Linked DNA regions of Homo sapiens: regions 2, 3 and 4 are each linked to region 1. Evidence: fine-mapped expression QTL. A gene starts in region 1. Each other region holds a variant in brackets. All regions are shown on one strand. Distances are between the middles of the regions.

Region 1 (2,683 bases):
TGCAGTGAGGGAGAGCCACCACCGCCCCAAACCGCGAAAAACCAACCAGTAACAACTTTATCATTCCTTTTTAACAGTCACAATGGTGGGCAAATGAGACTTAAGTTACAGCAGCTAGCTGGCACTCACACTCCCCTCGGCTCAGGCTCCTTAAACAACAACAACAAAACCCTAATGCAAGCACCCACCGGGGCTCACAATGTCAAACCCTTACCTGGCATAGGGAAAATCCAAGTGAGAGAGAGAGAGAGAGAGAGAGAGAGAGAGTGTGTGTGTGTGTGTGTGTGTGTGTGTGTGTGATTCCCTCTTTTACCTTCCAAGGCCTTCAACTATTTTTCCCCCTGCAGCATCCAAGCCCAGCCTCAAGGCAGATGCATAAACATGCCTGCTCCTCCCCTTCTACGGTTGGGCAAAACACCCCCCCACCCCCTTTCCAGGACCCCAAGGAGAAAGAATCACGTCCTCTGCAGCCCCTCCCTGGCCCTCGCCCACCCCCCGTTTCCCCCCCGCAATTCCAGGCCGTCCGCAGCAAGCCTCGTAGGCACCTTGAGATAAACACCCACTAATGATTTTATGATTTTCTGCTCTGGGTAACCGCGCTCAGCGGAATCCCTCCCCCCGCCGTGGCGACGGGGCCGGCCCAACCGAGGGATGGGGGGATGGGGGCGTTTGTTTTTTCCACGGCCTCGTCCCCACACCTGTTTTTCATTCATTCATTCGTTCGTTCCTTCATCCATTCACGGATCCGTCACTGCAGCCGCCCCAGCCCCCCGGATTTCGGGGAGGGGGCTGCGATGGGGGAGGGGGTGGGAGATGGGGGGGACGACAGAGGTGGGGGGTGGCGCACCGGGGGGTGGAAGGTTGCGAGGGGTCCGGGAGCCAGGACCCTGCGGCTCCGGCTTTGTCAGACGCGAGCGAAGCGGCGGCGGGGGCGGGGCGGGGGCGCTCCCGGGGCCCGAAGTTGTTTTCCGAGGCGCGGCGGCGAGGACAGCGGCCCGGGGTGCGCCCCCTTTGTCTGTCCCCGGCCGGCGCCGCGTCCCCGCGCGCTTACCTGGTCTTGGAGGACAGGAAGGCAAGTTTGATCAGGCCGTAGGTGAACAGCGGGATACTCTCCTTGGCGACGCTGGCAACTTGCAGCCGGTGCTCCAGGATGTGGAGTTCCATCGTCCGCCCGCGCCCCGTCCGCGGCGGCTCATCCGCGGGGGGACGAGCCGCGGCCCCCGCCCCCTCCGCGCCCTGCCGGCACCGACAGCCGGCCCGGAGACCCGGGAGCTCGGCGCCGGGCGCGGGGGGCGGCGGCGGCCGGGCCGGGCCGGACAAAAGGGAGGAGGCCCGCCAAGTTGCAAGGGGGAGCCGCGGGGCGAGGGAGGCAGCGCCGGCGGAGCAGCAGCCGAGGGGCCGAGCGGCGGAGCAGCGGCGCGCGGCGCCCGGCGCGGGGAGCAGCTGGTGTTCGCTGTAACAAACAACTTGCCACTCAAACGCCGGTCCCCGCTGCGCATGCGCGGCCCGCGCGCGGCCTGCCGGGACTTGTAGTCCGCCTGGGGGGGGGCTCCCCCGGTGCTGTTGCTGCTGTTGCTGCCGCGGGGGCTGGGCGGCCGGAGCTACCGGCAGCCCGGTGCACGGGAAATGCAGGAGCGCGGGCACCCTCAGGACTAAGGGGAAGGCCGAGGGGAGGCACGGGGCGGGTGGAGCCAGCCTGAGCCTAGGCGCGCCCTCTGGCACCCAGTCAGGCTCGGTACTAGGTGCTTGGAGTGTAAAGCGAGCAAACCAGACGACTCCGGTGCTGGAGAAGGCCCGAGTCTGGGAGCGCCAAGATGTAGGGCAATCGGTCATGAGAGTGCAGAGAAGCCAAACCGAAAAGCTTGCTGGGGACCCGGAGGGAGGGGATTGACAGGTCAAAGGGGGTGACCCGGGGGAGGGGACACTCAGGCTGGGTTTTGAAGGATGAATGGGAGTTCGTAGCAAGAGAGTGAGGGCGCGCGGATGGAGGACAGAGGCCTTCCAGGCTGCAGGAACAGCGTGTCCTAGGGCACAGAAGCGTGAAAGCCCCCACGGTGCTGTGTTTGGCTTTGTTGCAGCGGAAAATGTGAGGGAGGAGAGAAAAGAGATAAGGCAGGCATAGTCACCAGGAGTCAGGTCGGGAGGGTCATGTGTGCAGAGCTAATGAGGTGGCCATTTATCCCACTGGAGAGGGGGTGATGGGGACTGCGAAGGGTGAATTCGGGGAAAATGTAAAGTGCGTCTGAGGCACTTCCAACCCCAGGGCCCACGCGCCGGGACCACAGAGGTTCCTCCTTCATGGCTGTCTGGTTTTGAAATGTTCTGGGTTAAAGTGATTGGTGCTTCCACCTTTGGCAGAGTAATCTGGGGACGCGATGGGTGAGATCTATCTGCCAGGGCAGGCTGAGAACTCTCTTTCAGGGGAAAATTGCAGTTGTGCTCCCTCACCTTCCCTCAGCCCTCCTCTGTTAGGTAGGAACATACTAGGTTTTGTCATTTCCACAAAAGGGTGAAAAGCCTGTAATCTGTGGTAGATAGATCTTAGAGCATGCATATCCCCCTCCCACTTTATTTTCTTTTACTCTTTTTCTTTTATTTATTTATTTTTTAGAGACAGGGTCTTGCTCTGTTGGCCAGGATGGAGTGCAGGGGCGCAATCATAGCTCACTACAGCCTCGAACTC
Region 2 (2,683 bases), 57 kb before region 1:
TCTTGGCTCATCGCAACCTCTGCTTCCTGGGTTCAAGCGATTCTCCCATCTCAGCCTCCTGAGTAGCTGGGATTACAGGCGCACGCCACTGTGCCTGGCCAATTTTTTGTATTGTTAGTAGACATGGGGTTTCGTCATATTGGCCAGGCTGGTACTCCTGACCTCAGGTGATCCACCTGCATCGGCCTCCCAAAGACCTGGGATTACAGGCACGAGCTAACTCGCCCAGCCTCTTTTTTTATTTTTAGAGGCAAAGATTTGCTCTGTCACCCAGGTTGGAGTACAATGGCATGATCATGGCTCACTGTAGCCTTGAACTCTTAGGCTCAAGTAATCCTCCTGCCTCAGCCTCCTGAGTAGCTGGGATTACAGGCGCCAGCCACCATGCCCAGCTAATTTTAAAAATTTTGGTAGAGACAGGGCCTCGCTATGTTTCCCAGGCTGGTACAGAACTCCTGGGCTCAATGGATCTTTCCACCTCGGCCTCCCAAAGTGCTGGGATTACAAGCACGAGCCACCGCGCCCAGCTGCTTAATTTTCTAATAATAAGCAACATATTAAATTTCAAGAGGGGGCAAAATAAAAGCACTCCGATTGAAGCCTGCTCCGCACTTCCCCAAGAGGCCTGTGTACAGCTGCCACACACCAGTGAGCAACAGAAATTTCAGGCTCCCCAAGCCTCAGTCTCCCCATCTGTACCCCCCAGCAGGGGCCGAGTCACTGCGGACAACGTATGTGAATGGGCTCAGCAATGCCAGCTCCCTCAATTCCCCATGTAATCCCCCCAGGACTCACCAAACCCCAGGGGCTGTCCTCCAATCCGGACCATCTTCCAGAGCTCTCCGGATGCGCTTGTGAACAGCAAGTTACTAGGAAACCTTCAAAAGGAGCGAGAGAAGAATCCCCGAGGCTGATGTGAATTGCACTCCCTCCTTGGTGTGCTGGTGCACCAGCCAGAGCGAGGCATGGGGCTGGCCAGGCAGGGTTGGGCAGACCTCAGGGCCCCCCAAAAACAATCCCTTCCAGACACCCTGGACCCATTCGCCCGGCGGCCTCCTCGTCTTGAGGGGAGGCGGATGGGGAGGGTGATGTCAGGCTGGGCTTTGTAACAAGCCCCTCCCCAAACCCTTGCTAAGGCTGGTCTAGACACCTCTTCCCAGGTCCAGAGCACAAGCTGAGGGAGAAATAGCACCGGGGCTGCGGTTCAAATCCCCACTTTGCCACCACCCCACAGTGGACCTCGGACAACCCCTGCA[C/T]CTCTCTGAGCTGGGGGACCAGCTTACTTATGATGAAGTGCTATGGTGAGGGTTTATTAGAGACAAAGTGGCAGGGCGTGGTGGCTCACACCCGTAATCCCAGCACTTTGGGAGGCCGAGACTGGCAGATCACATGCAGTCAGGAGTTGGAGACCAGCCTGGTCAGCATGGCGAAGCCCCATCTCTACGAAAAATACAAAAATTGGCCAGGTGCGGTGGCTCACGCCGGTAATCCCAGCACTTTGGGAGGCCAAAGTGGGTGAATCACTTGAGGTCAGGAGTTCACGAGCAGCCTGGCCAACATGGCAAAACCCTGTCTCTACAAAAAATACAAAAATAAACAGGGTATGGTGGTGTGCGCCTGTAGTTCCAGCTACTCGGGAGGCTGAGGCAGGAGAATCACTTGAACCTGGGAGGTGGAGGTTGCAGTGAGCTGAGATCGCGCCACTGCACTCCAGCCTGGGCAACAGAGTGAGACCCTGTCTCAAAAAGTAAATAAATATTAAAAAAAAATAAAATAAAAATACAAAAATTAGCCAGGTGTGGTGGCAGGCACCTGTAGTCCCAACTATTCAGGAGGCTGAGACATGTGGATCACTTGAACCTGGGAGGCAGAGGTGGCAGTGAGCCAAGACTGCACCACTGCACTCCAGCATGGGTGACAGAGAGAGATCCTGTCTCAACAAAAATAAAAATAAAAAAAATCAGGCTGGTTGCGGTGGCTCATGCCAGTAATCCCAGCACTTTGGGAGGCCGGGGCGGGCAGATCACAAGGTCAGGAGATCCAGACCATCTTGGCTAACATGGTGAAACCTGGTCTCTACTAAAAATACAAAAAATTAGCCAGGCGTGGTGGCGGCGCCTGTAGTCCCAGCTACTTGGGAGGCTGAGGCAGGAGAATGGCATGAACCCGGGAGGTGGAGCTTGCAGTGAGCCGAGATAGTGCCACTGCACTCCAGCCTGGGCGACAGAGCGAGACTCCGTCTAAAAAAAAAAAAAAAAAAATCACGCCTGAGGCGGGCGGATTGCCTGAGGTCAGGAGCTTGAGACCAGCCTCACCAACATGGCAAAACCCTGTCTTTACTAAAAATACAAAAATTAGCTGGGCATGGTGGCACATGCCTGTAGTCCCAGCTGAGGCAGGAGAATTGCTTGAACCTGAGAGGTGGAGGTTGCCTTGAGCCGAGATCGCACCACTGCACCCCAGCCTGGGCGACAGAGCGAGACCCCGTATCAAAAAAAAACAACAACAAATAAAAGACAAAGTGGGTGATGTGCCATCACATAGTCCCCCCAGACCCTGGGGCCCACCCTGGGTTGAACGTCCACCCCAGGGCCTGGCTCACCTCTGCTGCGTCTGCACGTCCATCACCAGGGAGATGTAGCCCTCGATGAGGGAGAAGGAGAAGAAGCGGATGTGGCCGCAG
Region 3 (2,683 bases), 280 kb after region 1:
TCCCCACAGGACCAAACGCCTAGAGAGCTGGTGTATGGGTTCAGCAGACAGCCATCTCGCTGCGTGCCCCTGGGGGCTGTACTCAGTTGCCTCGTCCATAAATGGAAATGCTCAATCCCTTTTATGAATACCCTCAACTTAAAATAAGAAGGGTTGGAAAAAGAAATGAACATTTATTGAATATATGTCATGCTTTATTGGCCATCTTGTATAATAAGCACAGCAACCCTGGGTGGGAGAGCAGGCAACATGGACTACACATGGACCCCAGGAAAAGCTCCTTGATGGAGGTGGTGCTCCAGAAGCCACCTGAGCCAGGCCCATGGAGTCTTTTCCTGGTTGACTTTACTTTCTGATGTCACCAGCAATGAACCACAAATCACAAGGATATGACCTCTCCTATCTGTCATGACACATCAAAACTCAGAGGTCTCCCAGTAAAAGAGGCCGTGGAAGAAAAAAAAAATTAAACCAGGTAAAATGAGGACATTTTGCTCTGTGCTCATAAGGAATGCAACTAGGTACGAGTTTTTAAGTTTTTTTTTTCTTTGGTGGGGGGAAGGAGTCTCGCTCTGTTGCCCCGGCTGGAGTGCAGTGGCACGATCCTGGCTCACTGAAATCTCCAGCTCCTGGGTGCGAGTAATTCTCCTGCCTCTGCCTCCCGAGTAGCTGGGATGACAGGCGCCCGCCACCACACCCGGGTAATTTTTGTATTTTTAGTAGAGATGGGGTTTCACCACATTGGGCAGGCTGGTCTTGAGCTCCTGACCTCAGGTGATCTGCCCGCTTCAGCCTCCCAAAGTGCTGAGATTACAGGCGTGAGCCACCGCACCCGGCCTAATTCTGTATTTTTAGATGCAACACTATTTTTGCTTAATTTAATTTTCCTTTAGATGTAACCACGTATTTATGACATAATTTGCTCATTCTTTTGTGTTCCTGCTGTCCTCTGGTGACAAACTGTTTTTGTTTGCTAAAAAATTTTTCTTGAAAGGTATTTTCGCTGGAATAGAAACCTAGGTTGACAATTATATTCTTTCAGCACACTAAGGTTATTTCATTATCTGTTGGTGTCATTATATTTTGGCTTCCACTGTCGCTATTGAGAAGTAATCTACGG[T/C]CTCTTTTTAGGTGATTCCCATTCCTACTCCTGCTGTTTTTAAGAGGTTTTCTTTGTCTAAGATGTTTTCTACAGTTTCACTGTGTATTCTAGGTGTAGATTTTATTTTTATTAAACATATGTCTGTCATTCATGGGCTTAACTATGAAATGGTATCCTTCGATGTGGAAAACTCTAAGCTATTGTCTCTTTAGATTCTGCCCCATTCTCTATCTCCTATCCTACTGGGACTCACATTAATGTATGTTAGTCATCACTTTATCCTTTTAGCTTCTTACCTTTTTTTACGTTTTCTTCTCCATACTAAACAATTATTTCTTCTGGCTTACCTTCCATTTCACTAACTCCTTCTTCATCTTTTTATTCTGTTGTTAAAACACCTATCCGGTTTTTAATTTTGTTTGTAATTTTCATTTCTATGATTTCTAGTTACTGCTAAGTCATATTTTATAGTTTCCTACTCTCTAAGGAATTTCAAGATTGTCATATTTCTTTGGTAATGGGGCAGTTATTTTATAGTCTCTGATAATTCCAAATCTCAAGTTTTTGCAGGACTATTTCTGTTGTTCCCAGTGGTTCTTACCCTTATGCATGGTTCTTATTCCCTTCTATGCCTAATTATCTTAGTGAGTTAGTTATTTTACGTGAAAAAATTACTTATAATCTTAAGCCTAGGGTGAAGGCAGCTTCCTCCAGGTGTCAAGAGACAACACCTGCCTAGAATCACTCTAATCCAAGTTCGAGACTTGGTTCCTTGGCCCACCCAGTAGAAGTTAACCCAGGCCACAAGTAAGGATGCAGACTATTCTGAGTCTCTCACCCCACAAAGCTTTTAAAACTCAAGGTCAAGTGGTGAAATGTTTGCCTTCAGGACAAGAGTAATTCTCACTTCTGTCAATTGAGTTCCCATAACCCAGCCCTTCAAATTTTCTCTACTTTTCAACTTTCTGGTGTTTTCACAAAAGTTTTGTTTTATAATTTTACAACAGTGTTGGTTGTTTTCAGTAAGAATAACTAACCTCACCAACTCTGGGAACCATACCTTCCATATCCTTTATTCTCAAGAACAATTTATGAATTAGCCAGAACTACTTTAGATTGCGAGGTTACCAATTCCCAATTCAAACAAGATCAAGTACAAAAGAGAACTTTTATTGCTTCATTTAATTAATTAAGTCTAAAGGTTATACTGGCTCCACATATAGCTAGATCCAAAACCACAAAATAAGTCATTAGAATTCTCTCAGCTTAAGCAGAAGGGTGTCCTCCCTAAGGCAGACCTGACAGCCACATGCACCTTCATGCGTACCACATTCCTGTCCTGTGATCCCAGAGGCAGAGAACTATCACATCCTCCCATTACTTTTTTTTTTTTTTTGAGACGGAGTCTCACTTATCGCCCAGGTTGGAGTGCAGTAACACAATCTCAACTCACTGCAACCTCCACCTCCTGGGTTCAAGTGATTCTCCTGCCTCAGCCTCCCGAGTAGCTGGGATTACAGGCGTGCACCACCACGTCTGACTAATTTTTGTATTTTTAGTAGAGACAGGATTTTGCCATGT
Region 4 (2,683 bases), 72 kb before region 1:
AAAAATTAGCTGGGTGTGATGGCACGTGCCTGTAGTCCCAGCTACTTGGGAGGCTGAGGCAGGAGAATTGCTGGAATCCAGGAAGCGGAGGTTGCAGTGAGCCAAGATTGAGCCACTGCACTCCAGCCTGGGAGACAGACCGAGACTCCGTCTCCCAAAAAAAAAAAAAAAAAGATATAAACCATGGCCAGGGGTGGTGGTAGCTCACGCCTGTAATCCCAGCACTTTGGGAGGCCGAGGCGGACGGATCACCTGAGGTCAGGAGTTCAAGACCAGCTTGGCCAACATGGTGAAACACCGTCTCTACTTTTTAAAAATACAAAAATTAGCTGGGTATGTTGGCACATGCCTGTAATCCCAGCTGCTTGGGAGGCTGAGGCAGGAGAATCGCTTGAACCAGGGAGGCAGAGTTTGCAGTGAGTCGAGATCACACCACGGCACTCCAGCCGGGGTGACAGATTGAGACTCTGTCTCAATAAATAAATAAATACGTAAATAAATAAATGGATAAACCTAGATACTGTTGTCACCTCCAACCAGGAGGCACTTGTTTTTCCGGAGAAACATCTTACTCTTGCTCTGGTAGCAAGTGGCAGCTGAATCCCAGGAGGCCAGAGTGGAGCACATGAAGTCACGCCAGTCGGAAGGATGCCCCGTTTGAGTTCCCTCCTTGGGGCCTCAGACTGGATAGGCTCAGGCTAACGGTGGTAGCTGGTTCCACAACTCCAGCAGTTGATGTGCATTCCAGGAGGAAAATTACATATATATATTTTTGAGACAGAGTCTCACTCTGTCACCAAGGCTGGAATGCAGTGGTGCGATCTCAGCTCACTGCAAGCTCTGCCTTTTGGGTGGTTCAAGTGATTCTCCTGCCTCAGCCTCCCGAATAGCTGGGACTACAGACGTGCACCACCAACTCCAGCTAATTTTTGTCTTAATATTTTTAGTAGAGACGGGGTTTCACCATGTTGGCCAGGCTGGTCTCAAACTCCTGGCTTCATGTAATCCGCCCACCTCGGCCTCCCAAAGTGCTGGGATTACAGGCGTGAGCTACCGCACCTGGCCCCGGGAGAAAAATATTGAAGATGAAGAAGATGATTGATAAACCACGTGCTCCTCAGCACGTACTGTATGCCAGGAGCTGCAGATGGGGTGGTGAGAAGGATGCCTGCTTTCAAGGGTGTGTGTCTTGTGGCTGGTCTGCCACCTGCCCTGCAGAGCAGCCAAGGCAATGATGTTCATAAGAGGGACTTTGGGCAGGGTGTGGTGGCTCACGCCTGTAAATCTCAGCACTTTGGGAGGCTAAGCGGGCAGGTCACCTGAGGTCGGGAGTTCGAGACCAGCCTGACCAACATGGACATGGAGAAACCCCGTCTCTACTAAAAATACAAAATTAGCCGGGCATGGTGGCACATGCCTGTAATCCCAGCTACCCGGGAGGCTGAGGCAGGAGAATTGCTTGAACCCGGGAGGCAGAGGTTGCAGTGAGCCAAGATTACACCATTGCACTCCAGCTTGGGAAACGAGCAAAACTCCATCTCAAAAAAAAAAAAAAAAAAA[G/AAG]AGTGACTTTGGGATTCCTTGGAGCAGATTCTACCCCTCAAACCTGGGGTTCTCATTCTCAACCCTGCTTGTACAACACTATACCATAGAATCATCTGGAAACTTTTAGTTTTTGAGACGGTCTTGCTCTGTTGCCCAGGCTGGAGTACAGTGGTGCGATCATAGCTCCTTGCGGCCTTGAACTCCTGAGCTCAAGCAATCCTCCTGTCTCAGCCTCCTAAGTGGCTGGGATTACAGGCACGCAAGCCATGCCCGGCTAATTTTTAAAATTTTTTGTAGAGATGGGGGGACCTCACTGTGTTGCCCAGGGTGGTATTGAACTCCTGGGCTCAAATGATTCTCTTGCCTCAGCCTTCCAAAGTGTTGGGATTACAGGCATGAGCCACCTCGCCCAGGCTTTTTTTTTTTAATATATAATATAACATTTTGCATATTTATTCATCAGTTGCTGGACATTTGGGTTGGTTTCACTTTTTGACCATTATAAATAATGTCAAAACATTCATGTATAAGTTTCACATTGGCCCAGCGTTTTGTTTCTGGAATGTTTTTGTGTGAACATAAGTTTTCAATTTTCATGGATGTATACCTAGGAGTGGAGTTGCTGCTCATTCATTTAATTTTTTTGAGTTTTGACATTTGCGTCATTTAATCTACAACACACTCTGTAAATTCCAAGATACTGAATATTTATTTCCCTGCATACAACTTGGGCTGTTCCTTGCAGGCTCATGGCAGGCTTTCTGCCTGCTTTTCTTGTGTTTCTGCTGCTAAAGTAGGGACCCAGGCCGGGCGCGGTGGCTCATGCCTGTAATCCCAGTACTTTGGGAGGCCGAGGCGGGCGGATCACTTGAGGTCATGAGTTCGAGACCAGCCTGGCCAATATGGCAAAACCCCATCTCTACTAAAAATATAAAAATTAGCTGGGTGTGGCAGTGTGTGCCTATAGTCCTAGCTACTGGGGAGGCTGAGGCACGAGAATCACTTGAAACTGGGAGTTGGGGGCTGCAGTGAGCTTGGATTGCTCCACTGCACTCCAGCCTGGGTGACAGAGCGAGACTCCATCTCTAAATAAATACATAAATGTAAATAAATAAATTAGGGAACCCTCTTGGTGCCCAGT

What was found. PIP is the estimated chance that this variant, and not a neighbour inherited with it, causes the effect. A credible set is the group of variants that fine-mapping cannot tell apart.
Region 2: its variant is the best candidate, but not a certain one, in a credible set for the expression of CASTOR2 in tibial nerve (GTEx, PIP 0.83).
Region 3: its variant is the best candidate, but not a certain one, in a credible set for the expression of CASTOR2 in whole blood (INTERVAL, PIP 0.52).
Region 4: its variant is the best candidate, but not a certain one, in a credible set for the expression of CASTOR2 in whole blood (INTERVAL, PIP 0.66).

What each region holds. Positions count from the first base shown.
Region 1 is chr7:74,963,467-74,966,149 of GRCh38, reverse strand. It overlaps CASTOR2 (cytosolic arginine sensor for mTORC1 subunit 2), which reads right to left and starts at 1,445. Exons shown (of 9, transcript NM_001145064.3): 1 at 1,052-1,445. The coding sequence starts at 1,164. RefSeq lists a silencer at 1,598-1,707.
Region 2 is chr7:75,020,069-75,022,751 of GRCh38, reverse strand. CASTOR2 (cytosolic arginine sensor for mTORC1 subunit 2) reads right to left here. Exons shown (of 9, transcript NM_001145064.3): 6 at 2,603-2,683; 7 at 796-878. Among named protein-coding and RNA genes, the nearest start is that of RCC1L, 52 kb to the left of the region's middle. The variant C/T (reference allele first, on the strand shown) is at 1,257.
Region 3 is chr7:74,681,726-74,684,408 of GRCh38, reverse strand. The region is part of intron 1 of GTF2I (general transcription factor IIi); the gene reads right to left. Among named protein-coding and RNA genes, the nearest start is that of GTF2I, 25 kb to the right of the region's middle. The variant T/C (reference allele first, on the strand shown) is at 1,121.
Region 4 is chr7:75,034,994-75,037,676 of GRCh38, reverse strand. It overlaps a transcript of RCC1L not described here. Among named protein-coding and RNA genes, the nearest start is that of RCC1L, 37 kb to the left of the region's middle. The variant G/AAG (reference allele first, on the strand shown) is at 1,561.